Regions from separate parts of the Homo sapiens genome. Here regions 1 and 2 are each reported to be linked to region 3. The links are microRNA targets in miRTarBase. Many come from high-throughput screens and were not tested one by one. Region 3 holds a microRNA gene; each other region holds the end of a gene's coding sequence.
What was found. Region 3 holds the annotated microRNA hsa-miR-647 (GUGGCUGCACUCACUUCCUUC, at 2,878-2,898, shown strand). A microRNA usually pairs through its seed, bases 2 to 8, with sites in the 3' UTR of a target mRNA and lowers its output. Matches are read on the target gene's strand: a 7mer-m8 pairs with bases 2 to 8, a 7mer-A1 pairs with bases 2 to 7 and ends in A, and an 8mer does both.

Region 1 (4,000 bases), not on the chromosome of region 3:
TGGATATTCTCATTTAGTATGCTTGGGGTATTTTGAACAATTGCTGCCAACCCAATCTAGGCACAGCTAAGTTTGAGAACTATTGCTCAAGACAGCATGGAAGCTATCCGCAGAGAGAACTGTGGGTCTGTGTATCATATGTGTGCCCAGTATACTAAAGCCTCTGCATATTTTTTTTCATTGACAGCAAACTTGAAGAATTGGTCCATTTCTTACAAGTCATGTATCCCAAACTGTGTCAGCACTGGCAAGTGATCTGGATGATGGCTGCAGTGATGCTGGTCTTGACTGTTGTGCTGGGGCTCTACAATTCCTATAACTCTTGTGCAGAGCAGGCTGATGGGCCCCTTGGAAGATCCACTTGCTCGGCAGCCCAGAGGGACTCCTGGTGGAGCTCAGGACTCCAGCATGAGCAGCCTACAGAGCAGTAGGAAACCTCACACCTAGCCAGTGCCCTGCTCTGAGACACTCAGACTACCACCCTTTCCCCAAGTATAACGTCAGGCCCAAGTGTGGACACACTGCCGCCCATCCCATCAGGTCATGAGGAAGGGTTCTTTTAACACTCGGCACTTCTGTGGGAGCTATTCATACACAGTGACTTGATGTTCTTGGAGGATCAACAAAACTGCCCTGGGAAAGCATCCAGTGGATGAAGAAGTCACCTTCACCAAGGAACTCTATTGGAAGGGAAGGTCTCCTGCCCCTAGCTCAGGTGGCTGGGGAGAACTAAAACACCTTCACTGGTGGTTGGGGGTAAGGAGCGGGGCACGGGGGAGGAGGAGGTAGGGGGCAGTAAAAAACTTACTCTCTTTTTTCCTCTCTGTAATTGGTTATCAGGAAGAATTTGCTTAATGACTAACACCCTAAGCATCAGACCTGGAATTTGGAGTTGCAAAGTGACTATCTTCCCATTTCCCATCTCATTTTCAATAACTTCAGCCTCCCATTCTTTCCTTTGGAATGAGAGTTTCTTTTTACAGAAGTAGGAAAGGCTTCTCAGAAAAAAAAAAAAAAGTATAGGCTGAATTTAGCTCAGTGCTTGAAATGGGAAGATATGAATTATTATATACGCATCTGTCCACACATACACACATACTGTTGTGTACACACACACAACATGCCTGTGCACAGAGCCAACAACCCTTCAAAAGTGTGCTCTGGGTGTGTACCTCTGGATAAATAAGATGCATGCCAAGCCAACCCACAGATTTTCACCAGTGTGGGGCAGTCACCAGGCACCTGTTCAATGAGCTGTCCACATGGATTGAAGATGTTTTAAAAACACAGAAAACTCATGGCTTCAATGGCAGACTTACTAGTCTCCATTTCAAATGCCAACTCTGAGCTGCTGTACAGCACAATCTATTCCCTATTCTCTCTTTGAAAACAGTTAACCCACCTCACAGGTGAATGAGGAGAGAAGATGTGCTTTCTGCTTCAGTCTCTTACTCTGTGTGTGACCACATGCAAGAGTAAACTTGCACCTCAGTGCTTCAGTTCAAATGGGGTTTCCAACCCCAGTATAATTAGGGGTGTTTCAGAGCATCCCCAGTTATTTAGCACAACACTGAAGGAGCACATCCCCTCTCCATTTTGACTTCTCTCCCCACTTTTACAGCCACTGCCTTCATCAGTTTTGTAGAGGTTTGATTTCCATGTGGGTTTTGTTGTCATTGTTTTGCATTTTTGTTTTGTTATTGATATTGTTTGCTTTCATTGCTAAAACTCATATACGACTTACTATGAGCCAAGCACTGTTCTCAGTATTACATAGGTATGAATTCATTTAAGTCCTGAAGAAAAAGAAAAAAAAATACGAAGTGGATATTACCCTTCCCATTTTCAAATAAGGAAACTGAAGCACAAAAAGAACAAGTAACTTGACAAGGACACCCCGGTAGTAAATCATGGGGCTGGAGCTCAACCCCAGGGTAGGCTGGCTCCAGAGCTGTGCTCTCCTTGACTCTTCTGATGGTCTCCTAGCTGGAAGCCTCACATTTCAGTCTCATTCCCCCAAGTGGCCCATCAGCTACTCCATCTCTGGCTCCCCAACTAAACAGTTTCTCTCATAGTGCTGGACCTCCACTCACTAGTTTTTTTTCCAGCTGTTCTTCTCTTTTCTTCAGGTCACTCTTCTCGACCGAGTGCAAAAATTATCCCCTCCATACCAGCTTTGATGACCTTCCTTCCATACTCCTCACCAGACACAACATAATAGGTCACACACTCCTCTGTGCTTTCTGGCACGTTTTAAACATTATTATTATTGACCTTTACCTATAGTATACCATGGCCTATTTATGTATCCATCTCCCCTAGCATTTTTCCTCAAAGACAAGAACCATGTCTTACCCATCTCTTGGGTAAGTGCCTAGCATGGTGGCTGACGCTTGGGAGGGTGTCATTAAATGTTGCTCAAAAGAACAAGCAAACATTTAAGGTGGTGGAGAGCAGCCTGGGGACAGCTGACATGCTGCATGCTTCTCAGTACCAGCACCATCACAATGCAAAAAGCAACATCTTTCTTAACCTCAGCTTATTCTGTTTTTCAGTCTACTCTGTGAGAGAGCAGGAATGAGACCAGACTAGCAACACCATTGCCAAGCTCAAGGACTGGGCTCAATGCAGTCACTCCTTCAGAGAGACCCCCCACCCCAAGCATGCCCCACTTTAAAATAGCATGTTTATTGAAGGGGGCATCCTTTACAGTAGCTAGAAAATGACTGAGGCCCAAGCCAGGGTTGATCAAGGATGTGCCATTAAGGTAAAGAGTTACAGAGCAGGGCAGAGGGACTCTGGGGGCAGAAGTGGATGATTTGCCCGGCCTCTTCCAGGGGGTCTGGATACAACTGAAGGAGCTTTAGCTACATGAGGCCCTCAGAGCCAAAGACAGGATGCAAATAGAGTTCTAGAGAGTGGCCGTGGAAGCAGAACTCCAGGTGGGGAATGTTCAATCTCTGCCTCCCTTAAAGCAGGGCCAGGCTCAGCTGGCCCCATTGTTCACTTGGTCACAAGTTTCCTACCTTTGTTTCTGGATGAGTCAAAGGCCAGGAAGGCAGTTATGGAGAGCTCCTGCACCTCCAGCTGCCCCACAGAAAAGCCTGCAAGAGTACTTCCAGGCACAGGCCCTCTCCCACCCTATTCCATTTGTAAGCAAGGGAGGTCGAGGAAAAGGACATCTCCAAAAGGGAGCATAAGAATAGCCATATATACAGGGGCTGAAAAAGTGCTCATGAGTCCATCTTTTCTGGAAAGCAAAGACCAGCCTGAAGCAGTGGGAGCTGCTGCCCAAGCGGTAGTGAACTGGAGAGAAACAGGCCCTGGATTTTCAGTGAGGATGTGGATCTGAAGAGTCCCCCAAATGCCTCTGAAGTCTGACATCTCTGCTTAGCCCTAGGAGTCTGGTTCCCTGCCTTCAGTTGCAGAGTGATGTGTTTGTGTCATTGTTGATGTCACCTCCTAAAAAGACCTTCACTTTCTGGCTGCCACAAAGCCATATGTGTTGCTCCCCATATACAGCCTGACAGAGTAAATGGAGAGGAAGTGCTGGATTTGTGTATCACTGGCTATCAGTTCCTCATGTTGTTAAGCCTCACACAGGTGTGCTAGCATTGAACTGTAGAGTGTCACATACCTGAGTTTGAAAATAAAAGCACATTTCCAAACCTCTGGCAGCAGCCAAATGCCTCCTCATTTTATGGAGTTGAATTACAGTCTTACCCCAACCCAGAATTAGATGCCTTTGGATATATTAGTGCATTCCAGAACCAAGTCAGAGGTCCCCAACCCTTGGTCGTTATACTATGGGCTACCTCACAGGGGCTGGATCAGTTCCTCCTCTTCCCTTCCCCATTCCTGATCCTGGTTTCCTGTATCTTCCTGGTCTATGATTTTTTTAATTAACACAGTTTGCTGTGATTGAGTCTGCTGAGTTTTTAACCAACCTGATTTCCACAGCTGAACTATTTTTGTCTTTCTTACAGCTAGCTGCAGGGGA
Region 2 (4,000 bases), not on the chromosome of region 3:
TATTATCTATCTCCAGCAAATATATCTGGCTGAGTATCAGATTTTTTTTTCTGTCAGCACCCCAAAACTCAGGGAAAAAGATTAATGGAAGGTTTCTGTGAGTGCTACACTAACATGTTCTCCTGCTTATTCAGGGCTTTCTTCTACAGCCATTGTTGCCAGCCAACAAGGCTCAACTCCCTCACTCTACCCACCCCCCAGGAGGTGAGAATGGTAAGTCACTTTTATTAATTTGGGGCAACACATAAAGCCGGGATAGTTGCTACCTGGATCACAGAATCCCTAGGTGAGAAATAGCTATGAGGGGTCAGCAGTCTGGAATCCATGGAACCCTGGCCAAGCCTCTTGTACAAGAGTCTCCCGTGAAGCCATGTGCATCTGAGAGGACCTGTGGAACACAGTGTCCCCTAGGGACCAGTACTGGCCACTCCTACAATTCATTTTCTTGGAGTGCCACCTTGTGGTTTTTTTACCAACAGGCTGAGTGCCTGGTTATCTGTCCATGTTTCCCTTGCAGACACCAAGTGCCCGGATAAAGTCAGCTTCACGGGCCCGGACTGGCTTACCCAAGGAGGTGCTGAAGGTGCCGTTTAGACATCAGTTAAATGGTGTTGATCATCCTGTTTGCCGTTTCCACCATGACTGAAGGCAGACCCTTGGCTATCTCACCTCCACCAGACCTCCGGACTACCTGACCCTACCTCTTCCTCAGGAGCTGGAGAGCTGGTACTTAGCAAAAATATTTATTCTCTCAGCCACAGTTATGACTATTGTGGCCTCTGTGGAGATGAAGGCACGGGAAGCAACCAGGGGAACATGGCCTCAGCCCAGAGAAGCCACTGCTCTGTTCCCCAAGCCCTTGGTCTGCTGCTGGAGCAGTACCAGCCCCCCCGCCCACCAGGGAGGGACCCCCACCCCCAAGCACTGGGTAAGGTCTGAAGACAGCACAGCAGCCATACCCCTCACCATCATTACCACCATCACCAGATTCTGCATCTCCCTAGTGCTTTGCACCCTGGGAATTGGCAGCATGTGGAGGAACTAGAATCTCAGGAAAGAAATTGGGGGTTGTTTTCTACATAATTGTGAAAACAAGGTCTTCAAATGTGGAGACTTCTCCCCATTTACATGAGCACATATAAACGCTCACAACCTAGCCTGGAAAGGAAGACCAAGGCATCTGCCCCAACATGGCCTTGAGCTGCCTGTGAGGCAGGGGGCAGGGGTTCCAACACCAGCACAGGGCTCCCCAGGGACACTGGGAGCAAGCTGGTGCTGGAGCATGAATGACGTCTGTGAAGTAGAACCTGCGTCCCCACTAAGTCCTGCTGCTTCTTATTCCCCAACTCCTTGCCCTTTTCCCTTCCCTCCTAACCCCTTGGTGCCTTTCCCAGGGGGATCCCCACACTGGTCTTGCCTCTTCTTTTCCACTGCTTGGCTCTTAAGCCTCAGGCAGATAAACTAGTATTCCCCCCAGCTTGGGGAACCTTGGAGTCTGCCAGGTCACCTTAGGGCAAGGCCCAGAAGGCAGCCCCTGGGAGCACCCAGCAGTTCTTGGAGATGTCCTGTCATCTAGCCATCTGATATCTTCCTCATTTGAGGCCACAGATATATACAGCCCAATTCCTCTGTCTACAAGTACATGATTTTATATAGCTCAGTCTATAACCTCCATGTGGGCCAATATAAGCTGTGTTTCTTGGTAACACATATTTTGTTTGAGGGGCCACTGGCCATGGGAGGTTATTTGTTCCTTAGACCCTGGAATAACACATCCAAGCCATTACTTATTAGAGTCTCAGAATGTACTCAGTGGAGCTGTGCTTTGAGGCAGCCAACATTTCTCTGCTCTCCTTAGAAATGCAGTCTCCCAATGGAAGCTTTATACTCTTTGTACTGGGAAAGTGAGGATGATTTGGTAGCTTTATTGGGGTCATGTCTTCCCCAAGGTGTGGGGAGCTTAGCTTACTTGGCTTTTGAGGTATCATCCCTCTGTTCTCCCCTCCTATCTTTCCATGACCCTCTGGATTGAGAGAGAGAGATAAAGACTGACAGACACCAGTGTAGGCTGGAAAAGGGAGTGTGTGACCAGAGTGCCAAAAGTGACTAGGAGCAGGAACTTGGCTCCGACTCAGTTTGGAAAATGGGAAATAGGGGACAGTAAGCACAATGCCCAGTAGTAGTTGATTTCCAAGGACCCTGGAACCCTACACTTGAGAGGCTTAGGGTCACCATCTGCTCAAGAGGATCCCCTCTGATCTACAGGCCTTTTCCCTAGGTTTCTGCCTCCTCGTTTTTGTTCAAGTTGGGTTCTGAGTCCTCCCCAAAAACCATTGTTTTAGACCTCTTGGCAGGGCCCCAAAACAGCCTCCCTCATACCCATCATTCCCTCTGCCTTCTGCTGCCCTCATGGGCAGTGCTCTGAGCAGTGACCTCCCTTTCCTCCGTGGAAGTAGCTAGTGCAGACACCGTCATCCCACCCCACCTGAGTCACCCCAACCAAGAGGGTGACTGAATTTCAGCCTGATTATGCCCTCCTGGGGCTCCTGTGAGGTGGAGCCAAGGTTCCCTCTCTGTTCCTGTTTGTTTTTAAATATTGTTGTGTGTTTTGTATCTGTGGCACTGGCCTGCAGCATACTCTGTATATATTGTAAAGAAACCGTTAGGAGTAATTTTCTTTTGCATTGGGCAGGCATGGCCCTGCATTCCTGCCCTTTCCACTCATTCTGTAACACAGAGGACGAACTTCTGTATTAGCTGGGCAGCCTTGGGTTCTCCAGAAGAGAACAGGTTTTTCTTTTCCTTTTTAATTTTTCTTCTTAAACATTTGGCTCTTTGATCCTCATATCCAAGTCTCCCCTGAAGAGTAGGAGCTGCTCAGAAGAGCAGGTGAAAGCCACCATGGCAGATCCTGATGCCTGCCGGGCCTAGTCTTCCCTCTGAAATAACATGAAGCAGCAGCTGTGGAGATTCTTGACAAGTGCTGAGTGAAAGATTTGCTGCCCACCTCTACATGGGGAGGAGAAACACAGGTGGGAGCTACCTGTGGCATCCATGACCTAGTCAGAGGGATGAGATGCTCAGCAGGGGTCCCCATCCTATCCCACCCCACAAACAAAGGCTGGAAAAATTTGCTACCAAGGGCCAAGACCACCAGACCAAGCCTGTTTATGAGCCACCCCTGCCCAGGCCCTCACAGACATTGCTCACGGGGCTTCCCATAGAGGAGAAGCTAAAGAGGGAGGGGGCCTCATCCCCAGATAGATCAGGCAAGGCTTGGAGAGCTGCTCTTTAGGATCCACATCAACTACTTCCTCATTTTAAGGTATGGCAGTTCCCTTCATCCCCTTTTCCTGCCTTGTACATGTACATGTATGAAATTTCCTTCTCTTACCGAACTCTCTCCACACATCACAAGGTCAAAGAACCACACGCTTAGAAGGGTAAGAGGGCACCCTATGAAATGAAATGGTGATTTCTTGAGTCTCTTTTTTCCACGTTTAAGGGGCCATGGCAGGACTTAGAGTTGCGAGTTAAGACTGCAGAGGGCTAGAGAATTATTTCATACAGGCTTTGAGGCCACCCATGTCACTTATCCCGTATACCCTCTCACCATCCCCTTGTCTACTCTGATGCCCCCAAGATGCAACTGGGCAGCTAGTTGGCCCCATAATTCTGGGCCTTTGTTGTTTGTTTTAATTACTTGGGCATCCCAGGAAGCTTTCCAGTGATCTCCTACCATGGGCCCCCCTCCTGGGATCAAGCCCCTCCCAGGCCCTGTCCCCAGCCCCTCCTGCCCCAGCCCACCCGCTTGCCTTGGTGCTCAGCCCTCCCATTGGGAGCAGGTTGGGGCGAGCTGGAGGCCCGGGCTGGAGGGGCAGTGTTGCTGTTCATAGATTTTGTTCCATTGGCGTTGCTCTGTTGAATTTAATTTCAGTCTTCCTGATTCTTCCCTTCTGTAAAGTGTACATTACCAAGTTCCTTGTTTTTTTATATATAT
Region 3 (4,102 bases):
GGTGTGCGTCCTCCTGCCCTGTCCCCAAGGCCTCCACACTGTATAGGCCTAGGCCAGCCACTCCCTACCCCAACCCCAACCCCAGGCATGCCACAGCTGGGTCCATCTGCCGGCCCCAAAAGGCAGAGCGTGGCTGCCTGAGGCAGTGGTTCCTCTCCACCGGCTGAGGCCTGTGCGCATACCTGGAGTGTCCTTGGCGTTCTCGTCCCTTGCCGTGGTCCTGACGGACAGGTGAGGACCCAGGGCTGGTGTGTTTGAGAGATTTTGCTGTAGCTCAAGGGGGCCTTCAGGACACAGCTGAGTGTGACTCAGGTTGGCCTGATCCCAGGGCCCAGGTCCTGCCCCTTGTACAGGCCCAGAGGACTCCATCATCCGGCACATAGCAGCCCCCAGCCTCCACAAGGCCTCTTCACGGGCCAACTACTGTGTGCTGAGCATGGGGACAGACCCTAAACTCGCCACGTCCCCCATTCCCCAGTGTGTTGGTGCAAGTTACCCCAAGCAAAGTAAGGAGATCACATGTGCCCAGCCCCATTCCTGCCTGATTCCTTAGCCAGCCACCATGCCATGCCTCTTCACCTAAGCCCCTGACGGGCAGCACCGCATCCCCAGACACCCCCACCTCCCCACTCCTTCCCACCTGCCAGGGTGCCCTGGGGAAGTGGCTCGGGCCAGGCCCACGGACCAGGTGCAGACACCCCCACCTCCCCACTCCTCCCCACCTGCCAGGGTGCCCTGGGGAAGTGGCTCTGGCCAGGCCCACGGACCAGGCGGCCTCAGTGCAGGGGCTGGTCCCAGTGTCTCCATGCCCACTGCTGGCATCTGGCCACTCACTGGCCCGCTGTCTCCACCAGCTCCTGGACATGAAGATCTTTGTGGACACAGACTCCGACATCCGCCTGGTACGGCGGCTGCGCCGGGACATCAGTGAGCGCGGCCGGGACATCGAGGGTGTCATCAAGCAGTACAACAAGTTTGTCAAGCCCTCCTTCGACCAGTACATCCAGCCCACCATGCGCCTGGCAGACATCGTGGTCCCCAGAGGTGAGCCTGCTGGGCTGCCTGTTGGGTGGGTGTCGGGCAGGCCAACGGCCCAGCCCCCGGTCACCCGCCCCCCCATCCCGCCCCAGGGAGCGGCAACACGGTGGCCATCGACCTGATTGTGCAGCACGTGCACAGCCAGCTGGAGGAGGTGAGCGGGGTCCCACGTCCCCACGGCCTAGCCCCCAGCCCCTCTACCCACTTCTCCGCTGCCACCACCCCCAGTGGCCTGGTCACCTCATCCCCCTGCGTTCACTGTCCCCTGCCAGGTGCCAGCCCTGAGTGTCCTGAGCCTGCTTGGCCAGTCAGATTGTCCAGCCCAGACCCCATCCCGTTGTGCTGTGCAGGGCCTGGGTTCCCTGAGGAAGCTGGGGTGGGGGTACAGGTGCTCAGGACCCAGCCGAGGGTGCAGCCCGCTCAGCACACCCAGCCTGAGCTTTTGGGAAGACAGGCATGACCTGCTGGCCCAGGATTGTGGGGTTTCACTGCTGAGTCCCACGCCAGGCCAGGCTCCTCTCTTTCTCAGGGGGTCACCCCAGGAGCGACACCCCCACCAGAGGTCCCCTGCTCCCTGAGGCATTCTATGGCTGGGCCTTGGAGCCTGAGTGGCTCTGAACACACTCCCTACCAGGATGTTGAAGGCCTGAGGCCTGCAGAACAGAGCCCAGGGTCCTGGCTCTGATTGCCCCAACGCAGAACTGCAGGTCTGGCCCAGGTGGTCCCCAGGTTACAGGCATTAGAAGCTTGCCACCCCCCATGGCTGGCTGTGTCCCCGCGGGCCTGCAGCATGTCCATTCCTGGGTGGGGGTGGCCTGGCCGCCTGCCCTGGTCACTGACGCGCCACCGTTCCCTTGTGTCTTCCTGTGTTGCTGCCACAGCGTGAACTCAGCGTCAGGTAAGACTTGCACAGCTGTCTGCACAGATGGAGGCACTTCCAACACCTCCAAGGAGCTCTGGGGTCTGGGCTGTGATCCAGCCAGGCAGCTGGCTCTTCCCCAGTCACAGAAGGGGTGGTGTGGAGTGGTCCCAGCCCTGCTTCTGCCTCCCCTTGCTGGCAGATGAGGACACTGAGGCACAGAGACGTGAAGTAGCTTGCCCAGCGTCACGGAGTCCTGACCCTGTCCTGGCCAGACTTTGCTGGAGGCTCCCCTGACTCCTGAGTCTGTCTATGGGATTTGACCCCAGAGAGCACAGCTGTCCTCCTGAGCCAGCACTGCCAGGCCTCTGGGGCAGTGACTACAGACATGTCCCAGCAGCCAGGGAGCCTGCTGTACCTCCTGTGCCCAGCCTCACGGACCAGTCAGCTTTCCCTGGTTGCAGGTGGAGGGCCTCGCGCCTGTCCTCCCACCCACCCGGGTCCTGCTTGCCCCAGCTCTGTCCTCGCAGCCCGCACAGCTCTGCCAGCAGGAACTGGGCAACTGCAGCAAGAAGCTTGGGCTGGGCCGGGGCCGCATCCCACTGTCCCTCCCCAAGGGCAGGCATGCAGGGGGGTCAGCCACAAGGGACCTGCCCTTCTCCCTGCCTTCTGTGGGTTGGGAGGCTCCTGACTGAGCCACCTGGAGGGAGAGCCCTCACATTCAGAGCCCTCCAAAGAGTTTGCCAAATGTTGGAAATGCCTCCAGGGCCCGTCCACCAGCCGTCCAGCTTCCGGTGCCTGCATGAGTCTCCGCTTGGCCCTCTCCTCGGCCTAGGAACCCGCAGGTCTTGTCCCGTCAGGTTCCTCCTGAAGCTTTTGTTCTGAGAGGAAAAACTTTCCAGGGTTTCAAACTTGGAAAAACACCTGAACGCAGCCAGACACATTTTCCGTCGTCTGGTCAGCCAAGGAAGTGTTGGCCTGTGGCTGCACTCACTTCCTTCAGCCCCAGGAAGCCTTGGTCGGGGGCAGGAGGGAGGGTCAGGCAGGGCTGGGGGCCTGACCGCCCACACTCCTCCTCAGGCCTGCGGGGAACGCCCTGCTCCCCAACTAAGCAGCCTTCTCTTTGTTCTCTTCCTTCTCTCTGTAAACCCCCGTTTCCTGCCTTGTTCCCTCCCTGAACATGCTCTTCACCTGGCAAGCAGAGGAAGCTACGTTGGGATATGTGAGCAGTGTGCTCCGTGGTGCTGCTGTGTGACCCGCCTTCCCGTAGCCCCTTGCCCCGCTGCTCCCGCTAGGCCCTCTTTCCTGCTCCTGCCCCGCCCCTTTCCCTGCCGCTGTCACGCCTCTTTTCTGCCCTGCCACACCCCATTTCCGGCCCCGCCCCTTTCCCTGCCGCTGTCACGCCTCTTTTCTGCCCTGCCACACCCCATTCCCGGCCCCGCCCCTTTCCCTGCCGCTGTCACGCCTCTTTTCTGCCCTGCCACACCCCATTCCCGGCCCCGCCCCTTTCCCTGCCGCTGTCACGCCTCTTTTCTGCCCTGCCACACCCCATTCCCGGCCCCGCCCCTTTCCCTGCCGCTGTCACGCCTCTTTTCTGCCCTGCCACACCCCATTCCCGGCCCCGCCCCTTTCCCTGCCGCTGTCACGCCTCTTTTCTGCCCTGCCACACCCCATTCCCGGCCCCGCCCCTTTCCCTGCCGCTGTCACGCCTCTTTTCTGCCCTGCCACACCCAATTCCGTGCCCTGCCTCTTTCCTTCCCCTGCCACACCCAATTCTGTGGCCTGTCGCTTTCCTCTTCCTGCCCCTGCATCACCCCCTTTCCTGCCCCGCCCCATTCCCTGCCCCTGTCATGCCCCTTTCCGGCTTTGCCTCCTCCCTGTCCCACCTCTTTCTTGCCTCCACCCCGCCCTTTTCCTGCCCGCTCCTAGACCTGCTGCTGCCCCGGCCATCCCCAGGCTTGGGCAGCGGGGCGGGACGGGACAGCCAAGAGACACTGAGCCAGCTTTGCCCCCCACCCCCCTCTCTTGAGGGGCCGCGCACCACCTCGGGGAGGAGCCAGGGCGGGGCCTGACCCCACAAAGCTTTAGTTCCCCCGGGGAGAGGCTGGGGACAAGCTACCCATTCTGGGGTATGACACCTATCAGCACGTGTGAGCCCGCCCTGTGCCCGGCCCACTTCTGCTTCCTCTTAGCGCAGGAGGGGTC

Region 1: miRTarBase lists IRAG1 as a target of hsa-miR-647. The part of its 3' UTR that is shown has no 7-base or 8-base seed match.
Region 2: miRTarBase lists ZNF609 as a target of hsa-miR-647. Seed matches in the 3' UTR shown: 7mer-m8 at 950-956 and 8mer at 1,831-1,838.

Annotation. Positions count from the first base shown.
Region 1 is chr11:10,572,763-10,576,762 of GRCh38, reverse strand. IRAG1 (inositol 1,4,5-triphosphate receptor associated 1) reads left to right here. Exons shown (of 21, transcript NM_130385.4): 21 at 188-3,668. The coding sequence ends at 431. The region is part of intron 1 of IRAG1-AS1 (IRAG1 antisense RNA 1); the gene reads right to left. Among named protein-coding and RNA genes, the nearest start is that of LYVE1, 6.1 kb to the right of the region's middle.
Region 2 is chr15:64,681,175-64,685,174 of GRCh38, forward strand. It overlaps ZNF609 (zinc finger protein 609), which reads left to right. Exons shown (of 10, transcript NM_015042.2): 9 at 135-213; 10 at 518-4,000. The coding sequence ends at 208. Among named protein-coding and RNA genes, the nearest start is that of OAZ2, 20 kb to the right of the region's middle.
Region 3 is chr20:63,941,487-63,945,588 of GRCh38, reverse strand. MIR647 (microRNA 647) reads left to right here and starts at 2,863; the gene lies at 2,863-2,958. UCKL1 (uridine-cytidine kinase 1 like 1) reads left to right here. Exons shown (of 15, transcript NM_017859.4): 6 at 855-1,044; 7 at 1,131-1,192; 8 at 1,920-1,936. MIR1914 (microRNA 1914) reads left to right here and starts at 4,045; the gene lies at 4,045-4,102. RefSeq lists enhancers at 1,846-2,557, 2,558-3,271.